Homo sapiens: one gene and its partners. The protein of the gene in region 6 purifies or fractionates together with the protein of the main gene of each other region. This does not show direct contact. Each region holds a gene or a part of one and is shown on either strand. Other genes may lie near its edges. The genes, in order: ECPAS, PDXDC1, PCYOX1, STK26, KLHL36 and B3GAT1.

Evidence for each region.
Region 1: the proteins of B3GAT1 (region 6) and ECPAS purify together in Homo sapiens (affinity purification with mass spectrometry; one large-scale study listed by BioGRID and IntAct). This does not show direct contact.
Region 2: the proteins of B3GAT1 (region 6) and PDXDC1 purify together in Homo sapiens (affinity purification with mass spectrometry; one large-scale study listed by BioGRID and IntAct). This does not show direct contact.
Region 3: the proteins of B3GAT1 (region 6) and PCYOX1 purify together in Homo sapiens (affinity purification with mass spectrometry; one large-scale study listed by BioGRID and IntAct). This does not show direct contact.
Region 4: the proteins of B3GAT1 (region 6) and STK26 purify together in Homo sapiens (affinity purification with mass spectrometry; one large-scale study listed by BioGRID and IntAct). This does not show direct contact.
Region 5: the proteins of B3GAT1 (region 6) and KLHL36 purify together in Homo sapiens (affinity purification with mass spectrometry; one large-scale study listed by BioGRID and IntAct). This does not show direct contact.

The regions. Positions count from the first base shown.
Region 1 is NC_000009.12:111,414,884-111,418,383, forward strand, and holds part of ECPAS (proteasome adapter and scaffold protein ECM29), read right to left. Parts: intron 3,124-3,500; coding exon 3,000-3,123; intron 1,470-2,999; coding exon 1,389-1,469; intron 1-1,388. UniProt on the Homo sapiens protein: Adapter/scaffolding protein that binds to the 26S proteasome, motor proteins and other compartment specific proteins. May couple the proteasome to different compartments including endosome, endoplasmic reticulum and centrosome.
Region 2 is NC_000016.10:15,036,429-15,038,832, reverse strand, and holds the end of PDXDC1 (pyridoxal-dependent decarboxylase domain-containing protein 1), read right to left. Parts: 3' UTR 803-2,404; coding exon of another isoform or gene 623-802; 3' UTR 501-622; downstream 1-500. Other genes in the region: NTAN1 (protein N-terminal asparagine amidohydrolase), read left to right, coding at 146-259, 623-802.
Region 3 is NC_000002.12:70,268,137-70,271,636, reverse strand, and holds part of PCYOX1 (prenylcysteine oxidase 1 precursor), read right to left. Parts: intron 1-3,500. UniProt on the Homo sapiens protein: Prenylcysteine oxidase that cleaves the thioether bond of prenyl-L-cysteines, such as farnesylcysteine and geranylgeranylcysteine. Only active against free prenylcysteines and not prenylcysteine residues within prenylated proteins or peptides.
Region 4 is NC_000023.11:132,057,802-132,061,301, reverse strand, and holds part of STK26 (serine/threonine-protein kinase 26), read right to left. Parts: intron 1-3,500. UniProt on the Homo sapiens protein: Serine/threonine-protein kinase that acts as a mediator of cell growth. Modulates apoptosis. In association with STK24 negatively regulates Golgi reorientation in polarized cell migration upon RHO activation.
Region 5 is NC_000016.10:84,655,011-84,658,510, forward strand, and holds part of KLHL36 (kelch-like protein 36), read left to right. Parts: intron 1-1,860; coding exon 1,861-2,934; intron 2,935-3,500.
Region 6 is NC_000011.10:134,378,008-134,381,242, forward strand, and holds the end of B3GAT1 (galactosylgalactosylxylosylprotein 3-beta-glucuronosyltransferase 1), read right to left. Parts: exon of another isoform or gene 2,748-3,235; intron 2,741-2,747; 3' UTR 501-2,740; downstream 1-500. UniProt on the Homo sapiens protein: Involved in the biosynthesis of L2/HNK-1 carbohydrate epitope on glycoproteins. Can also play a role in glycosaminoglycan biosynthesis. Substrates include asialo-orosomucoid (ASOR), asialo-fetuin, and asialo-neural cell adhesion molecule.

The DNA of each region.
Region 1 (3,500 bases), on a different chromosome or scaffold from region 6:
TCAGAAATTGGAGCTGGAGGCTGTTATCCTTAGCAAACTAACGCAGGAACAGAAAATCAAATACCACATGTTCTCACTTATAAGTGGGAGTTAGATGATAAGAACTTCTGAACGCAAAGAAGCAAACAACAGACACTGGGGTATACTTGAGGAGAGAGGGTGGGAGGAGGGAGAGGAGCAGAAAAGATAACTATGGGGTATTGGGCTTAATATCTGGGTAATGAAATAGTATATACAACAAACCCCCATGACACATATTTACCTATATAACAAACCTTCACATGTACCCTCGAACCTAAAATAAAAGTTAAAAATTATAATAAAAATCATTATTTTTTAAAAGCCGTGTGTGTGTGTGTGTGTGTGTGTGAGAGAGAGAGAAAGACAGAGAGAGAGGAAAGAAATCTGAAGTAAATGGCCTATTACTCCTGCAGAATTCCAGTTGTGTTTACTCCATTGACACAAGAATCTGAGAAAATGGGTTCAATTCATCTACAGAAAAATAGATATAACACCATAAAAACCTCTGATATAGACCAGACACAGTGGCTCACGCCTGTAATCCCAACACTTTGGGAGGCTGAGGCAGGAGGACTGCTTTAGCTCAGGAGTTCAAGACCAGCCTGGGAAACATGGTGAAACCCATCTCTACCAAAAAGATAACAGAATTAGCCAGGGGTGGTGGTGCACGCCTGTAGTCATGGCTACTCAGGAGACTGGGACGGAGGTTCACTTGAGCCCAGGAGGCAAGGTTGCAATGAACCGAGATCACGCCATTCACTGTACTCCAGCACGGGCAACAGAGTGAGACTCCTTCTCAAAAAAAAAAAAAACCAAACAAACAAAAAAAACAACCCTTACATAAACAGGCTGCCAAGGAGTCCATCCTCTGGAAGCTTTTTCATTGATCGTTAAAATAGGATAGGCAGCAAATTCACTGTGAATATTCTTAATCCGAACAAGATCACCTCTTGTAATTTACCTAGAGCAAGTCAATAATCTAAAAAACAGAATTTCCCTTAATAAGTGTGATCAATTTAATCCTCTCCAACCTTCAAAACTAAATAACCCTAACAACCTCAACAACAGGTTGGCTTTAAAACCCAAATCTAACTTGCTGCAAAATCCCAATAGTAATCACTACAGAACATCCAGTTTTTTCACAAAAAGAATCTCACTGAGATAAATATATTTACATACTTCACTATGAATTAAAATAATACCAATTTCCCAATACTTTTTTTTTAAATAAACAACCCGATGAAGAACAATGACACCACAATATGGGTTTACCTAAAACACAACAAAATGACAGACCCCTCTTTGGGTGTGGTGTGATCTTTTTAGAACACTTACAAAAAGTAAATAGAAATATATGAAAGTTCTACCTCTCCAAAGGCTGCTGGGTTAAATGGAAGGACAGTGGTCCCGGTCATGTACTTGACTGGAGTTTTCATTCGATGAGAAGCCTAAGTTTAAAAAGTCCAAAACAGACACAATTACTGAAAAATGAAGCATACCTGCCCTTCCTCAACTCAAAAACAACTGTGTTTCTAGCTACATGTCCTAAGTTTGCTTCTTTTTCTGATCAAACATTTTCCACTTTCCTATTAACCATGCTGATCGTGCATGTCCCTCACACACTAAAAGACAAGTGTATTGCCCTTTTTCCATGTTTGTTCTGGTTTGTTTAAAAATAATAAACCTATTCCAGACATCTACTAATATGGTCATCTCAGGTCACTGCATGCCAGTTATTTTCATTAATAATCAAAGTAGGAGGAAACTACAAGCAGAGAATCTTCTGACCACAAATAGACTGTGCTGCTATGTGGAAAACAGAATCATGGCCGCTGCATACTGACCTTCAACTCCCTTAAGGTGCCTACCTAGCAAAGAGCTAGGATCACCAGTGGAGGTAAAAGGTAGGAAGGTGTCCTCCGGCAAAGTGGGACAGAGTCAAGGCCTGGAGGGGGTGGATGGTCATTACTGCCAATATCCTGGATCTACTAGCAGAAAACACTGTGCAAAAGCAAAAACTTACAAAAGCAGATGGGATGCTCTCTTATGAACACGGTGGGAAGAACATGAACTGTTCCCTGAAGCATCCTTAAACTTACACTACCCTAAAGCGTGCCCTTAAAAATAAAAAGGAGAACCAGCGTGGGCAATATAGCAAAACTCTGTCTCTACAAAAAATAAAAAAATTAGCCAGGCACGGTGGTGCACGCCTGTAGTCCCAGCTATCGGGAGGCTGAGGAGGGTGGATCACTTGAGTCTGGGACGTGGAGGTTTTAGTGAACTGAGACCACACCACTGCACTCTAGCCTGGGTGACCAGAGCAAGACCCTGTCTCAAAAAAAAATAAAAAAATTTTAAAAAAAGGAGATGTATTTTTAAGCATGTCATATTAAGGGAAAAAATATTTAACACAGCCAAAATGTTGCCAAGCATGAAAGGAATTATAAGTAATTCAAGTTTAGGCAAAACAGATCAATTACAGGTGAGGATTACAATTTTTTTTCCTCACTTTGTATCTTCTTCTTATTGTAAGTATTAATGCTAGAAACTTTATGAGTCAGCTGGGCATGGTGGTTCATGCCTGTAAACCTAGCACTTTGGGAGGCCAAGGCAGGTGGATCACCTGAGGTCAGGAGTTCAAGACCAGCCTGGCCAACATGGTGAAACACTGTTTCTACTAAAAATACAAAAAATTAACCGGGCTTGGTGGCAGGCGCCTATAATCCCAGCTATTCAGGAGCTGGGGCAGGAGAATCACTTGAACCCAGGTAGTGGAGTTTGCAGTGAGCCAAGACCGTGCCATTGCACTCCAGCCTGGGCAACAAGAGCGAAGCTCCATCTCAAAAAAAAAAAAGAAAAGAAAAGAAAAAGAAATTTTATGAGTCAACATCTAGTGATTACATTTTTCACTTTAAAGATGTTTTTATTTTCATCATCCATTATGATTTAGACTAATTACCTTAAGTTGCATGCCATACCTTTTCTTGGATGTAATAAACCATTTCTGGGAAGGAAGGCATCTGCTCAGAAGTACTTTCTTTTCTGTTTCTACCTGGAAGACACCTTAATACGCGTTGTGCTTCTCCATGAACTTCTTCACGTCTTTCAGAAAAAGACAAATAAGAATAAAAAATAAATGTCACCAATGGGAAATGATCATTTGAAGAATAAGAACAGCAATTTTATTTGGCAGCTAGAGTTCTCAGAAAATGTCTTAAATACATTCTTGGCTATCTAAGCAGAGTCAACATAACACATTATAAGAAATCACTTCTTTTCAGAAATTGCATGAGGTCCGGGGACTCATCTGGCTTACATCTTTGAATTTGACTCACATTAAAAAACAAGATAGGGTACTTTAAGTAAATTATTATGTAAATATCTATGTGTATGCTTTACCTCGTAGAGTTAAACCATAAACAACTATAATACATATTTTAGAAGTCAGTGACTATCCAGTGGTCTACACACTCCACCCA
Region 2 (2,404 bases), on a different chromosome or scaffold from region 6:
TGGCAGCTTTTGTTATTTGAGACAGGTTTTAAGAAGCTTAGGCAGATAAATGCATGAAAGGACTACACTGGAGCTTGCGTTACTGGGAGGGTTTGAAAAGTGGGTGACATTCCTGAAATTCTATCCTTGACACGTTCTTTTTTAGATGATTAGCATTTATGATGCAGAGACAGAACAACTTCGTATAGGACCGTACTCCTGGACACCATTTCCACATGTGGATTTCTGGTTGCACCAAGATGACAAGCAAATACTAGAGGTGAGAGTTTACAGGCTGGGTAAGTCTTAAATCTCTGCACCCTGGTTTCCCCATCTGTAAGAAAAAAAGGGTTTAGACCAGGTCATAGCTGCTTTCCCTTTGGCGGGTAGTAACTTTTTGGATGCCATTGACAGACCCCATTTAACTTGTATATCAAATGGGGATATGTCAAGTCCTAGATGGAAATGTGTGTGGGTAAAGCAGTAAGCAATCAACTTTTTTCTTACTAATTCAGGCCACCTCATTTCTTAACGTATTTTATTATATATATTTGTGTCCAAGAACAAAGATACTTTGACATCTTTATCACAGCAGGGGACAGTAAGGTTGGCTTCTCTAATGCCCACCATCTTGTGTTTTCAGAATCTTTCCACTTCGCCTCTGGCTGAGCCACCCCACTTTGTTGAACATATTAGATCTACCTTGATGTTTTTAAAAAAACACCCATCTCCAGCTCACACACTGTTTTCTGGAAATAAAGCCCTACTCTACAAAAAAAATGAAGATGGCTTGTGGGAAAAGATCTCTTCTCCAGGAAGTTAAAAAACATGAATTACCAAAGAAAGCACCTTCTTGGCCTGACAGACCATTGGTGGGGCTGGCACGAATCCAGATCTGGATCCTACATCTGTTGGGTCTTAGGCCTCCTTCCCTCCTCAGTGTCTTTCAAATGACTTTCATCAAATGACTTTCAAAATAAAACCTTATTTTGGCAAAGGCATTTGTTGAGACTTATTTTTTGGTTTACTAAAAAATTGATGTCCAGTTTTTTTTTTGGTCGGTAATAACGGGCAGAGGAGAACCTACCTCTCACTGGTCTATCGGCAGCTATTTCAGGTACGTGGGTAAGTCTTTTGTAATAAGATTTATAAACTGAATTCACTGGTAACAATTTCAAGAACCTTTATTGAAACCAACATTCAAATAATATCTCAAGGGTGAAATGTTTCAGCAAAACCAATTTAACAATTCCAAATATATATAAAAACATGTAATTTTCTTGAAGGTGATAATTTACCCCTCCCCCATTTTATCTGCTATACTTCATTGCACCAAATAGGGAAGACTGTTTAATCATCTGCACCAAAAAAAACCCCCTGCATTTTGACAAGTGTAAATGTCAAAAATCCCATCAAATCAGAGTATAATTATAGGCTTAATATACTATAACTAAGGCTTCCAATACTACAGTCCAGAAACCCAGTGTGAATTTTCCCATTTTCAGGTCTCCCAAAAGCTTGACTGCTGGATTAAGAAGGCACAGGGGCCATTACTTACGACAAAGTGACGCAGTACTTCGGAAAAGTAGGAACGGGCAGTGCCAGCGAGCTTCTACTGACTTAAGCAGGGTGCCCGGCTGGATCAGCGTGAGAGAGTGCTCTGCTGGCTCCTGTTTCTGAGTTGGGCCCAGGCGAGCTGCCAGGGCAGTAGAAGCTTCAGTGGGAGACAGGTCAAAGGGGTACTTGTTTTCAGATTTTAACCAGGTGGGTGCTACGTAGCACACGGAAGAGCAAGCTCTTAAGGGTAGCATCTATCAGGTTTTCAGATACTAAACAGAAATGAGCACAGTCTGTACTTGTGTGCCAATTTTAAAAGCTTTGCCAGTATTTAAAAATATATGGTCAGGAGGAGACTTTACAGTTTCTCTTTACAAACGGTATATAATGGGAGAAATGGCCTTGTGGCAGAGGACAGTCCCAGACAGCAGCCTTGCCACAGCTCAAGTAGACACAGTCCTTACTAAGTCTCCACGAAGAGCAGTAGCTGGGGAGGGCTTCTGATGCTCTTATTTACAATCCCACAATCACTGCTCTCCTTCAAGTCTAGCAGTCCCACTGTATATTGCAACTTGATCGTACTAAAGACCGACAGCAAAGGATACAGCCAGTCTCGCCTCTGTGAAGTGTTGCAGAGAACCTGGAGAGTGCTAATGAAAAGCTGTTTTACCAAAAAGTTGCCACGGGCAACCTCATATACTTAGGCTTATGTTTAGAAAGAGCAAGGGTGCTACTGGTAGACACTTGAAATTCGAAGTGTTTTTTGTGAATAAAATGTGTTTATGGTAACTTAGGGAAAAGTCGTAGTAGGACAGCAAACGTGGTTCTACATGTACATGAAGTTAGACAAGCTGACTCCCCTCCTAGA
Region 3 (3,500 bases), on a different chromosome or scaffold from region 6:
TGTAATGACAAGATTACTGCGCAAGTGTGAATCCAAACAGTATAGCTTTTAAATTTTAAAGCATTTGGTAAATTATCGCTGAGTTTTTTTCTGTTGCCAATAGCAAACTGCTTTTCCATTAATGGAGAATTCACGCCTTTCAAGCATTTTAAATATGACAATATTTATAAATGTATGGTTTGGAGGAATCGTTTAAATTCTCTTTCCTAATTTTCTTTCTTTTGAAGATAGATTCTTTCAACAAGTAATTTGTAGTAATGACTGTGTTGACTTCAATTTTGGAGCGCAGTAGCTATGTTAAAGATGAACTATTTGGTCTCATTGAAGCCAACACAGAACTTGCTGCTGTGTTTTTTCTTCAGTGATAAATAAAATACTTACAGAAAAAAAAAAAAAAAAAAATTAGCCAGGCATGGTGAGGCATGCCTGTAGTCCCAGCTATTCAGGAAGCTGAGGCATGAGGATCACTTCAGCCCCGCTGGTTGAGGCTGCAGTGAGCTGTGATCACACCACTGCACTCCATCCAGCTTGGGCAACAGAGTGAGACCTTGTCTTAAAAAAAACAAAAACAAAAACAAAAAAATAATAATTTTTAAAAAAATATAACTGGGGCCAGGCACAGTGGCTCACGCCTGTAATCCCAGCACTTTGGGAGGCCAAGACAGGTGGATCACCTGAGGTCAGGAGTTCGAGACCAGCCTGACCAACATGGAGAAACCCTGTCTCTACTAAAAATACAAAATTAGCCGGGCGTAGTGGTGCAGTGGCACAGTGAGCCAAGGTGAGCCGAGGAGAGCCAAGATCGTGCCACTGCACTCCAGCCTGGGCAACAGAGACAGACTCCATCTCAAAAGAAAAAAAAAAGGAGAAAATGGTCTGAAAAGAAGACTAGAAATACATGGGGTTAGGAGGGTTGAATTCTAAATAAGACTGTCCAAAAACAAGAGTGGTCAGGAAAAGCCTCACTGAGAAGATGATATAGACCAAAGACCCGAAGGAGATGAGGATGCAAACCAGGCAAACACCTGGGGGAAAATATTTCCGGTAGAGGTAAAAGCAATGCAAAGGTCACATGACAGAAGCTTGCCTGGCACATTCAAGAAACAATGAAGCCAGAGCAGCTGAAGCAGAGTGATATGGGAGAACCGGGAGTGGTACAGCCAGAAATGTTACTGGGGAGAGGAAACTTCCAGAATGGCAGAGGAAGGACCTCTGGAAATCTGCTCCTCCATAAAAGCTATGAGAATACTGCCAAAAATGATCAACATTGACTCTTTCAGAGCTCTGCAGATAAACCAAAGCCTTTCCAAGTCCAAGGAGTATTTATTCAAGAAAAATGTCTGGCAGGCATGGTGGCTCACACCTGTAATCCCAGCACTCTGGGAAGCTGAGCCAGGCGGATCACTTGAGGTCAGGAGTTCAAGACCAGCCTGCCCAACATGGTGAAACACCATCTGTACCAAAAATATAAAAAATTAGCCAGGTGTGGTGGCACACGCCTGTAATCCCAGCTATTCAGGAGGCTGAGGCAGGAGAATCGCTTGAACCCAGGAGATGGAGGTTGCAGTGAGCCAAGATCGCACCATTGCACTCCAGCCTGGGCGACAAGAGGGAGACTCCGTCGAAAGAAAGAAAGAAAGAGAAAAAGAGAGAGAGAAAAAAAAATAAAAAATAAAACCAGCACCCTTCCAACTGCAATGTGAAACTAGCAAGCTAGAAGCCACTGGAGAGAACACAACGAGTTTGTAGCTCCCAAAAAGCACTATCCTCAGAGAACTGTCAATATTTGACCTATCTGGCAGCTCCGAAAAAGCTCTATCCTGAAGGCTTGTCTTTATTCGACCTGATTCAAAGTTCACTCTATGCAACAGCCCCATCCTGAGGGCACGTGTCCACGTGTCAAAAAAAAAATCTGTGGCAATTGTTTAACATCACAGATGCCGGAGGCTATGACATCAATAGAGACTACAAGAGGCTGACCAAAAAAACTTTTTAAAAAAGGCCGGGTGCAGTGGCTCACGCCTGTAATCCCAGCACATTGGGAGGCACAGGCTGGAGGATCACTTGAGGTTAGGAGTTCGAGACCAGCCTGGCCATCATGGCGAAAACCCATCTCTACTAAAAACACAAAAAATTAGCCAGGGTTGGTGGTGCATGCCTGTAGTCCCACCTACTCAGGAGGCTGAGGCACAAGAATTGCTTGAACCCGGGAGGCAGAGGTTGCAGTGAGCCGAGATAGCGCCACTGAACTCCAGCCTGGGCAACAGAGCGAGACTCTGTCTCAAAAAAAAAAAAAAAAAAATTAGCTGGGCATGGTAGTGCACATCTGTAGTCCCAGCCACTCAAGGGGCCTGAGGTTGGAGAATTGCTTGAGCCTGGGAGGCAGAGGTTGCTGTGAACATACTACACTCTAGCCTGGGCAACAGAGTAAAACATCATCTGAAAAAAAAAAAAAAACAGACACACAGATCCTTGAAACAAATAAGAAAACCCAGAAATAAACCTTCATGAATATGATCAAATGATCTTGACAGAACTGAAATACATAGTTCAACAATAATGGAGACTTCAATATCCCATTTTCAATAATGGACAGTTACTGAAAATGACAACAGTGTATTAGTTCACCAAGACTGCCATAACACAGTACCAAAGACTGGATGGCTTAAACAAAAAAAGTTTTATTTCTTATAGTTCTGTAGGCCAAAAGTCCAAGATCAAGGTGTGGATGCATTCGGTTTCTTCTGAGGCCTATTTCCTTGGCTTGCAGATGGCCACCTTCTTGCTGTGTCCTCACATGGTCTTTGTGTGTTTCTTCTGTGTCCCAATTTTTTTTTTTTTTTTTCTGAGACAGAGTTTCACGCTTGTTGCCCAGGCTGGAGTGCAATGGCTCACTGCAACCTCTGCCGCCCAGGTTCAAGTGATTCTCTTGCCTCAGCCTTCCTGAGTAGCTGGGATTACAAGCATGCACCACCACGCCCAGCTAATTTTTTGTATTTTTAGTAGAGAAGGGGTTTCACCATGTTGGTCAGGCTGGTCTCGAACTCCCAACCTCAGGTGATCTGCCCGCCTTGGCCTCCTTTCTGTGTCCTAATCTTAAGGACACCCATCAAATTGTTTTAGGGTCTACGCTAAAGACCTCATTTTAACTTAATCACATATTTAAAGGCCCTACATACATATGCAGTCACATTCTGAGTACTGGGTGGCTAGTGTTTCAACCTATGAATTTTGGGGAAAACAAATTTAAAAGTAAGGGATGAGAGCACAGAATCCTGTCATGTCTTCTCAGTCACAAAACAGATTTTGGCTATAAATCTCTATTAATGAAATAGCCACTGAAGGTTTCTGAGTTAGTGGAGTGATGTGATGAGCCTTAGATTTTAAAGAACTACTTTGGCTGCTAACCTGAGAACAAATGGTAGCAATATAACAGTAATGGCAGATGATTTAGGAGGTGTCTTGGTTTTCCACTGCTGCTATAACAAATTACCACAAAC
Region 4 (3,500 bases), on a different chromosome or scaffold from region 6:
TGGTTCTTACAATGGTGGATAGGTTAAAAATTGTTTCTTCTGCCACAAGTTTGTTTCTAACAAGTACTATACTCTATCATATGAATTCAGAGAGCTTCCCATTCACCTGACATTTAAAAGAAAAAGATCTTATAAAACATGCCTGCCTATTTTGCAGTTCTGCATGAATGAAAGCACCTGTTTTCCAAGTTAAAAACAATGTGTGCCTTTTTGTTTGTACTAATTCAAAACAGAAACTTGCCAACTGTCTGTCAGTAAAACGTGTTCATAGAAAGCTTGAAATGTGACTTTACAAAGTAGTATATACCATTAAGCATTAAAATTACAACTACTCAATTTCTAGATCTGAAAATAAGGAATCCTTATTTGTTCTGGAAATCAGTGGTGGTGAGGGCTGCACAACACGCCTGTAATCCTGGTATTTTGGGAGGCCGAGGTGGGAGGATCGCTTGAGTCCAGGAGTCTGAGAGCAGTCTAGGCAACATAGGGAGTCCTCATCTCTACAAAAAGTGCAAAAAAGTAGCCAGGTGTGGTGGCATATGCCTGTAGTCCCAGCTACTCGGGAGGCTGAGGTGGGAGGATCAATTGAACCTGGGAGGTGGAGGCTGCAGTGGGCCAAGACTGCGCCACTGTACTCCAGCTCGGGAGACAGAGTGAGACCCTGTCACAAAAAAAAAGCAAAACAAAAAAACAAAACAAAAAAAAAACCACCCAAAAAACAAACAAACAAAAAAAACACAAAATCAATGTGAATGTAGCCAATGCCAGAGAGCTGTACACTTAAAATGGCAAATTTAGTGTTAAGTATATTTTGCCTGATTAAAAAAAACATACAGCACATAAGACTTTATAAAACTGGAAGTGACAGTAGAGATCATCTTGCCAAGAATATGGCTAGAAAATTTACCACTTCTGAGTCATTTTCCTCCAGCTTGGAATGCTGTGTCCCTACCCCACTTGCACCTTCCAACCCCTATCAAAATCATTCTCAAGACTTAGTTCAAATGCTACCTCCCTAGTTTGAGGGTTATTGCACTTGATGTACTCACAGATAAGCAGGCTATTAATATGAAGCAAGTTATAAACACATATCTGGGGCTGAGCAGAGAGGATGAAACCAGAGACATCAGTTTAGAAGTTGTCAGACGAAAGTAGATGAGATTAACCACAATATGCAAAAGAAGAGGAATACACATAGTAGGCATTAATAAATAAGCGTCTGTTGAATTGAATCTAACATGGGGCTTCTTAGAGGTGTATTATATTAAGTTTAAAGCTATTCCTATTTTGAGAAAAGAACATTTTAAGAAGGAACAAACTTTCTAGCCTCCATTTTCTTCAAGTTTTATAAGAGAACTCCAAAACAAATGTTAACAATAAAAGAATATTCCAGAGGCATTGAGCATACATAAACTGGCTGTAAGCACATACAGTTTCAGTGAAAAATAAGGAGAAGGCCACAAAGCCGTACAGATGATTCTGAAATATTTTACTTCATTCAATTCTTTTTTTTTTCATAAATACTGGTGATGGTGGGTGGGAGGCAATATTTCCTTAACATACACAGAAATCTAAAGGCAATTTTCAGCAGCAAATAAAGGCATGATTCAAATTCTATTCAATGCCTGAGTGTCATTTTAAGATTTACACTGAACTAGAAAAATATTTAAAGATTATAAAAGATTATTCCAATATTATGAGATCAGAAGGGAAGGGTTTGCTTATTTTAGCACTCTTCATAAAGACTAACTTTGTCAAGAAAATCTGCCCAGTGAACTAAAATTAAAGGAAAACACTGTGGTCATACTGATGTGTTTGTCTGGTTTTTAACTCTTGTTTTCAAAAATGAAGTTATACAGTGAGCTTAGTCAAAATGAATACCTAGTACATTTTTTGCATGTCTCAAGGAAATCACTACAACTGCATACAGTTTCAAAGAACATATAATTTTCTCTCAAATGTAATAAACTTTTCCTCCAGCTTACAGTGAGGTCTTAGTTATGGATGACATCCTGTGTAAGAACAACCCATTTCCCAGTTTGCTCAATTAACTTGACTCACAAAATCCTCCATGTCACCTGAAATGGAACAATGGGCCACAATAAGTATGTAAGTTGACTGATAACACAGTTCCCTGATGGCACAAAGAGGATGTGGCCTTGACTTATGTTGACTACATGAAACAGAATCCTGTTATATTTGACGTGATTTTAGTTTAGAAAAAAATACAAACCCACACAGTCATACTATGTTGTAATATAAATGGAAAATAAATGAGTTGGTCAATTTAAGAAAGTGATTTAAATACATGGTATGAAAACGTTGTAAGATTATAGAATATTTCTTTCTCTGTGTGTATATACATATGTCTCAAGACATATGTATATACACACAGATTTATTTACTTTAAATAGATTCAGAACACAAATAATCAACATAAGCCAGCTGCACATTTCTACAATTTTATCATGAAGCAACATGTTCTTCAAAGTAGTGTTTTATATCATAGAGTTTAGTTAATGATGGGTGAAGGAGATAAAAATAATTTGATTTAATCCCTTAAGAAGCTATCTTGGACGATGGTTTTGTAGCACTGGCTGGTCTGAGTACACTTTACAATCAAAATTTGGGACAAACAAAAAACTAGTTTTTAATTATTTAAAGATTAAGTAAATACTGGGTGACTAGTACATGTATACTACTGTGCAACTTAAAAAACACTCTATATGAAATCTTAGGAAAAGAAGATAGAGCTGTCACTCATTTTCCATGGGAGTATTGAATATGAATAAATAAGCAACCAATAAAATTGTCAAACCATATCAGTACCAATTTTCAATATATTATGGAATAGCCATTTTAAATAGGGCGTATTTAATATTTTAGGTCAGCAACCAAAAATAGTGTTTTTGTCACAGGTGCCTAAAAGTAGCAAGGATTCAGTTTTGCCCTAGAGTGAGTCTGGAAATACCGGGATTCAGTCCAGAAAGAGTAAACCAGAATGAGCAAATGATACACACACAGACACACACACACACACACACACATACACACACACGCACACACACACATGTACCACCAAGGAATTGTATGGGAATTAGGAGGAGAACCTAAAACTACTGAGACTGCGTAATCACTCATGAGATCTCTAAAAAAGAATATGATGGGCTGAATTAGCTTTTTAGGAACAAATATGACAGCAAAATTATCACACAAAGGAGCAAATAATTATGTATGTAGTAAAATACAGTAATAGCTAACACTTAGATGTAAATGCTGAAATTGGATAGAAATTACTAGCATTATCACCTCCTTTTGGAGGCCTTTTATTCATGCCACTCCTGAAAAGGACAGAAGTGACTACTTACTAATTTGTGCATCATCTATACCTTGTACATACTTTAACCATAAAATTGGCATCATTTCAGTGCAAAACTGGACTGTGAGTGCCTTGACAGCAGTAGTGAGTTTGTTCACTTTTATATCTTCAGCACCTAATA
Region 5 (3,500 bases), on a different chromosome or scaffold from region 6:
AAGCCCGGTGTAGGCCAGCCTGGCTCTCTTTGTGGGTAACCAGGATAAATAGAGATCTCCACGTGTGTGACCTGTGAACTGAAAAGCCAGCCTGGAATGGAAGAGCGGGAGAGCCCGTCCTCTGAACTCAGAAGGAAATGCCAAGTCGGATCTGTCTGGCATCCTCCACAGGCTGTGAGAATGTGGCCTGCTCCTGTAGCATGGACAGAGAAGTTGCTGTTGGAATTGACTGGATGTGGAAATACCACAGGGAAATAAAGTGTCTCAATGACAAACGCATGTATGGCAACAAAAAGAAGATTTGAAAGGGAAGAAAAAAATAAAACCCACTGCTGTAGGACACATGTTAAGAAGCAACTTTTAAGAATTCAGAGCCTGGGCAGTTTAGGGAGACGTTGTCCCTGCAAATTATAAAAATCAGACAGGCGTGGTAGCGTGTGCCTGTAGTCCCAGTTACTCAGGAGGCTAAGGCGGAAGAATCACTTGAGCCCAGGAGGTCAAGGGCGACATAGTGAGACCTCGTCTCTACAAAAAAATTTTAAAATTAGCCAGGCATGGTGGCACACACCCGTAGTCCCAGCTACTCAGGAGGCTGAGGTGGGAGAATCACTTGAGCCCAGGAGGTCAAGGGTGCAGTGAGCCGAGATTGTGCCACTGCACTCCAGCCTGGGCAACAGAGTGAGACCCTGTCTCAAAAAAAAAAAAAAAAAAGTCGAACCACATAGCTGCTAATACCTAATAGCCCTCGGTCAGTTTTCTTCCTCCAACCACATTTCCCCTCTTCAGGCTAGTGCCCAGCCAGTTCTTCACCTCAGTCACCCTGGAATAGACCAGCTATCTATGTGATAGTTTTCAGTTACCTGTTTCTCCCTATGTTGAATTCATTTATTTATTTATTTAGAGACAGGGTTTCTTTTTGTCGTCCAGGCTGGAGTGCAGTGGCACAATCATGGCTCACTGCAGCCTCAAGCTCCTGGGCTTGAGCGATCCTCCTGCCTCAGCCTCCTGAGCAGCTGGGACTACAGGCGAATGCCACCACGCCCACCTAATTTTTAAATATTTTGTTAAGACAGGAATCTCGCTATGTTGCCCAGGTTGGTCTCGAACTTCCTGGCCTCAAGTGATTCTCCCGTCTCAGTCTCACAAAGCATTGAGATTACAGGCATGAGCCACCATGCCTGGCTTGAATTGTTGTGTTGTTTGGTTTTGGGTTTTTTTGGTTTGTTTTTTGTTTTTTCTTGTTTGTTTTGTTTTGTTTGTTTGTTTTTTGTTTTTTGAGACGGAGTTCTTGCTCTGTCTCCCAGGCTGGAGTGTAGTGGTGTGCTCTTGGCTCACTGCAACCTCCATCTCCTGGGTTCAAGCAATTCTCCTGCCTCAGCCTCCTGAGTAGCTAGGATTACAGGCACACGCCACCATGCCTGGCTAAATTTTGTATTTTTAGTAGAGACAGGGTTTCACCATGTTGGCCAGGCTGCTCTCAAACTCCAGTAGCCGGGCTGTCGTCCCAGCTACTCAGGAGGCTGAGGCAGGAGAATCACTTGAACCCGGGAGGCAGAGGTTGCAGTGAGCTGAGGTTGTGCCACTGCACTCCAGCCTGGGCGACAGAGCAAGGCTCTGTGTCAAAAAAAAAAAAAGAAAGAAAGAAAGAAAGAAGTTATATTAATAAGAGAAGGAAAAAAAAAACCACGATACACAGGCATACTCAGAAACACCTGTACTTCCTGCAGTGCCCTCTGATGCAGCATTTTATTTCCTGTTTTCTTCAGTTTCATTTTGTTGAAAATGCTGGTCAGGACCCACTGGGTTGGACCAGGGCCGAGCAGGCTGCTGCGCCGTTTCTAATGTGTCTTCTCTGTCCAGGTATACCGCTGGGCCGACCACTCAAGCACGGTGCTGCAGCGGCTGAACGAGCAGCGTCTCCGCGGGCTCTTCTGCGACGTCGTCCTGGTGGCCGATGAGCAGCGTGTGCCAGCCCATCGCAACCTGCTGGCCGTGTGCAGCGACTACTTCAACTCCATGTTCACCATCGGCATGCGGGAAGCTTTCCAGAAGGAGGTGGAGCTGATCGGCGCCTCCTACATTGGGCTCAAGGCCGTGGTGGACTTCCTGTACGGCGGGGAGCTGGTGCTGGATGGCGGCAACATTGACTACGTCCTGGAGACGGCTCACCTGCTGCAGATCTGGACGGTGGTAGACTTCTGCTGTGAGTACCTGGAGCAGGAGGTGAGCGAGGACAACTACCTGTACCTGCAGGAGCTGGCCTCCATCTACAGCCTCAAGCGGCTTGATGCCTTCATCGATGGCTTCATCCTGAACCACTTCGGCACGCTGTCCTTTACGCCCGACTTCCTGCAGAACGTCTCCATGCAGAAGCTGTGTGTCTACCTGAGCAGCAGCGAGGTGCAGCGGGAGTGTGAGCACGACCTCCTGCAGGCCGCCCTGCAGTGGCTGACGCAGCAGCCCGAGCGCGAGGCCCACGCCCGCCAGGTGCTGGAGAACATCCACTTCCCGCTCATCCCCAAGAACGACCTGCTGCACCGCGTCAAGCCGGCCGTGTGCTCGCTGCTGCCCAAGGAGGCCAACTGCGAGGGCTTCATCGAGGAGGCCGTGCGCTACCACAACAACCTGGCGGCCCAGCCCGTCATGCAGACCAAGCGCACGGCGCTGCGCACCAACCAGGAGCGCCTGCTGTTTGTGGGCGGCGAGGTCTCCGAGCGGTGTCTGGAGCTCAGTGACGACACCTGCTACCTGGACGCCAAGAGCGAGCAGTGGGTCAAAGAGACGCCGCTGCCCGCCCGGCGGAGCCACCACTGTGTCGCGGTGCTGGGGGGCTTCATCTTCATCGCCGGCGGCAGCTTCTCACGGGACAACGGAGGGGATGCGGCCTCCAATCTTCTTTATAGGTATGACCCCCGCTGTAAACAGTGGATCAAGGTGAGATTAAAGCCAGATTATTTCTTTTCTCTTGAGGACTCTCTCGGTTTCCTTAACCTAGCCTTGACTTTCCTTACCTCTCTGGGGCCTTGACAACTATCCTGCTTCTGAATGAGGTGTGATGATAAAGTGACGAGCAGAATACCCCGGGGCCTACATCCTGGACAGGGAGAGGGAGAGCCGACCCACCCCTTCGAGGGGTCCGTCATCGTTCAGAGCAGCACTGCCTGGCGGGGCTTTCTGTGCAGATGGAAGGGTCTGTCTGTACTTCCCGATACGGTAGCCACAGCCGCATGTGGCGACTGAGCACTTGAAATGTGGCCAGTGCGACTGAAGAAGTCAATTTTCAATTTTATTTCACTTTAACCGATTGACGTGTAAGTGTATGTGGCCGCACGAGGCGTGGCTACCCTATTGGACAGTAGCATGGGTCTAGATGTTTGATCCATGGTTCAACATCCCCAGGTCCTGGAGTCTCTGTGGGGCTCCTCTGGAAGCATTTTGGGAGATAGTTTAAGGAGACCACTAGTGCTCACGCCTGGCCCTTGGGCATGTATTGTGTCCTG
Region 6 (3,235 bases):
TGGGGACTCCCTTCTCCCACGCCCACCACATCCCTCACTGCTGTTGCCCCCAGCAGCCCCCGCCCCGTCAGTTGAGCCCGATGGCCTTCCTGCTGATCTGTAAGCAGGCTGAGCAACGCTTGTTCCGCCTGGTGGAGAGTTCGTTCTTCTTGGGCCCGGGGAGCTGCATGTCAGGGTGTTGCTGCTTCGCTCAAGGGTCACTTATCACGGAGGCCTCTGTGGTCACCCTACAGAGCACTGACCCTCTCCACTGCTACCTCTGTCTCCCCGACTCACCCTCATCCTCCATACAACAGATTGCATCTGAAATAATATGCATTCGTTATTGCCTGTCTCCTCTCGTCAGTGGGTCAGTTCTTTGAAAATGAGAGCCTTGTTTTCTCACTGCTGTGTGTCGGCTCCTAGAATGATGCCTGTTCATAACAGGCACCTGATACATACTTGTTGGGTAGCTAAATTAATAAATGAGAACAAAATAAGGCAGGGCTGAAGAGGATTAGGACTGTTAAAAACTGTATTTGACTTTTAATTTTGAAAGCAAATTAAATACAGTTAAATTAAAACAGACCAGATGCAGCTGCCTGGGTGCCACCCTCACCCCAGCCTCTGTTCTTAGAACTCCTAGCCCCTGGCCTCACTCCTGTGTGGTGGGGCTTGCCAGCGAGGGAGCAGGGAACAGACTGGGTTTGGAAAACAGTGGTCATCATGGACCCATTTCTGATTTATAACAAACTCATTCCCAATAAAGATGAAGGCTGCAGTCCACCAGGGTTATAATTATAAATAAATATACATGCAGCTAAAAGAGGATATTAGGTGAAAACAACTGACCTAGCATCTGCCCAAAGAAGTCCCCATTTTGTTGTTCATTATCAAAGTCCTGAAAATGAACCCTAGGTTTTTGGCTAAGAAGGTGGCCTCAGACCAGCCAAGCTGACCTTGGCACTTGGCTGGCTTCTGTGAGGCAGTAGAGTGCCCACACATAAGCTCACCACCTGTGCCCACCTCCTCCCTTCTCTCCCATGCCACCCCACTTGCTTCCAAGGGCTTGGTTTCCAAAGTGACATCCAGGGTGTAAGAGGTTGGGGAAAACGTCCTGCAAGGTGGCTCAGGGATCTGATTCCATCAGATGGTCTCATGAATACTGTGGGAGATTAAATCCATCTCAAAATAGGCAACCAATGCTATATTCTGAATGTTAGGTCTCTGGACTGAGTCCCACCCACCCACCCACTCAGGAGTGGGTTCTGAATGGCCCTCAGACCTCTCCTGGTGAGTCTTAATGGGGTGGGAGGCTGTTAGTTAAAAAATAAACACCTCTTCAGTAGGCTGGGGCCCTTTCCTTTTCCTCCACTTGGGGGGAAAATTGTGCTTCCAACTTGCAGGAGAATGAGCCGGATCACCACTAGAGAGCCCGGCTGGGCCAGGGGGTCAGAGCCCTTTCCAGTGGGCCCCAGAGGCCTGGGGAGGGCAGGAGTTTGAGGCACACTGTTCTTTCTCCAGGATGGAAAGTGGACAGCTGGACATGAGGTGGGCTAGCTCTGCATGCTCCTGACTTAGGGAGAAATAACATTTTCTTTCCCTTTTTTGTGTTTAGAATAATTTCCAAAGCAGTGTGCTCAGGCCTCCCTCCTGCTCAGTGTCCCAGCAGCCCCTGCCCCCTCTTTCCCAGCCCCTCTGCTACTCCAGAGTCCCTCCTCCTCAGACCAGGGGCAGGAGGGAGTTAGGGAATGGCCTTGGCCTCCCTCCTCTTTCCAGGCTGCAGGAGGTCCCACCTTGCCCACCACCCACCGCCTTGCCCACTGCCCACCATGGGCTCACTCCACCCTGAGGTCTGTGGCTCTGAAGAGCTGCAGGAAAAGGCGCTTTCCCTCCCCAGTCCAGTCCAGGCGAGGGGCCTAGCAGCCGAGGTGGGCGGTGGGGAGGCAGTGTGTGGACAGTGGGGCCGTGGGGTTCTTAGTCCAGGTCAGGCAGTGACCTGTGCTGGCTCTAGAGCCTACCCCTTTGCCACTGCTGGAGGAGAAGGGGTAAAGGAAGAGGGGCCGGAGGGGGGGACTCTGCTCCCGCCACAGCCTGAGGTACAGGGGGTGCCTATTAGGCCCAGGCTCCCCCCATGCAGGGCTGGGTGCCTGTTGGGATCCAAGACAGCCTTATGCTCTGTAAACGTGAACCAGAGGAGAGCCACAGAGGTATGTCTGATTTGGGGGCAGCTCTCGGGAAGAGCAGGGGCCCAGGAGAGGAGCAGAGCGCTCGTGATGCCCGTGGGCTGCTCTCTGGTCTTCAGAATTCCCTGGCTGGGTGTCCTGTGTGGTCGTGCTGAGCCCAGGGACAGGGAGCCAGGGAGGGCCATGCTCCACTTGACTGCGGGGTCTTCTTATCTCCCTCCCGCCCTGCATCACTGCAGGGCCAGTGTGGGCGCCCACTGCACCTGCTCCTGCAGCCCCGTCAGTGCGGGGAGCTCTGGGGAGGTGCGCTGGAGCACCAGCTTGGCTGGTGCTGGACACCCCACCCTGGCCATCAGGTCTCTCGGGCCCTGGTCACGCTGGATGGAGAGAACAACAGGTCTGGGATTTCTGTGCTTAAATTCTCTGTCCTTTGTTCTGGCATCAGGCTGGGCTCTCTCAGAAGCCCCCAGAATAGAAAGGAGGGTGATGGTGATTCCTTAGGAGTCGGCCTTGGAGGGACCATCAGCCGTGGGGAGAGGATGGAAGGCCAAGAACAGGGTCTGAGGAGGAGGCTCCTGTGAGGGGAGAGGAGGAATGAGTGAGGTGTCGGCTGAGGGTGGGGCCGGGGAGGGAATGGCCAGGCAGGGCCACCAGGACCTCTGCAAAGCCCAGGCCCCCAGGTCCTGTGGGGGCCTTTCTGAGGGGCAGGTGGGGAAGGTGCTTCCAGTGAGGGCAGTGAGGGCAGGAGGCAGAAGTGAGGCTCGGTACAGATGCATTCTAAGTGGCGCTGGCCAAGGTGACTGAGTGACACCCTGTGGTCCTCTGCGGGCAAACACAATACAGAAGCTATTGCTTAGCTCCAGGGCAAGAGGACAAATGTCTGTCTCAGGCCTCAACCTCTGTTTGGCATAACCTAGAGTAGGGAGTCAGGAGTACCAGCTGCTTTTAAGAGACAGGATAAGATCACAGAAAAGCCCCTGAAAATGCCTGGCTTTGCCAACCACCCAGCACAATTCACTCGTGCCAGTGTGTCACCTTGGAACATTCATTTAGCTTCTCTCAACATCATT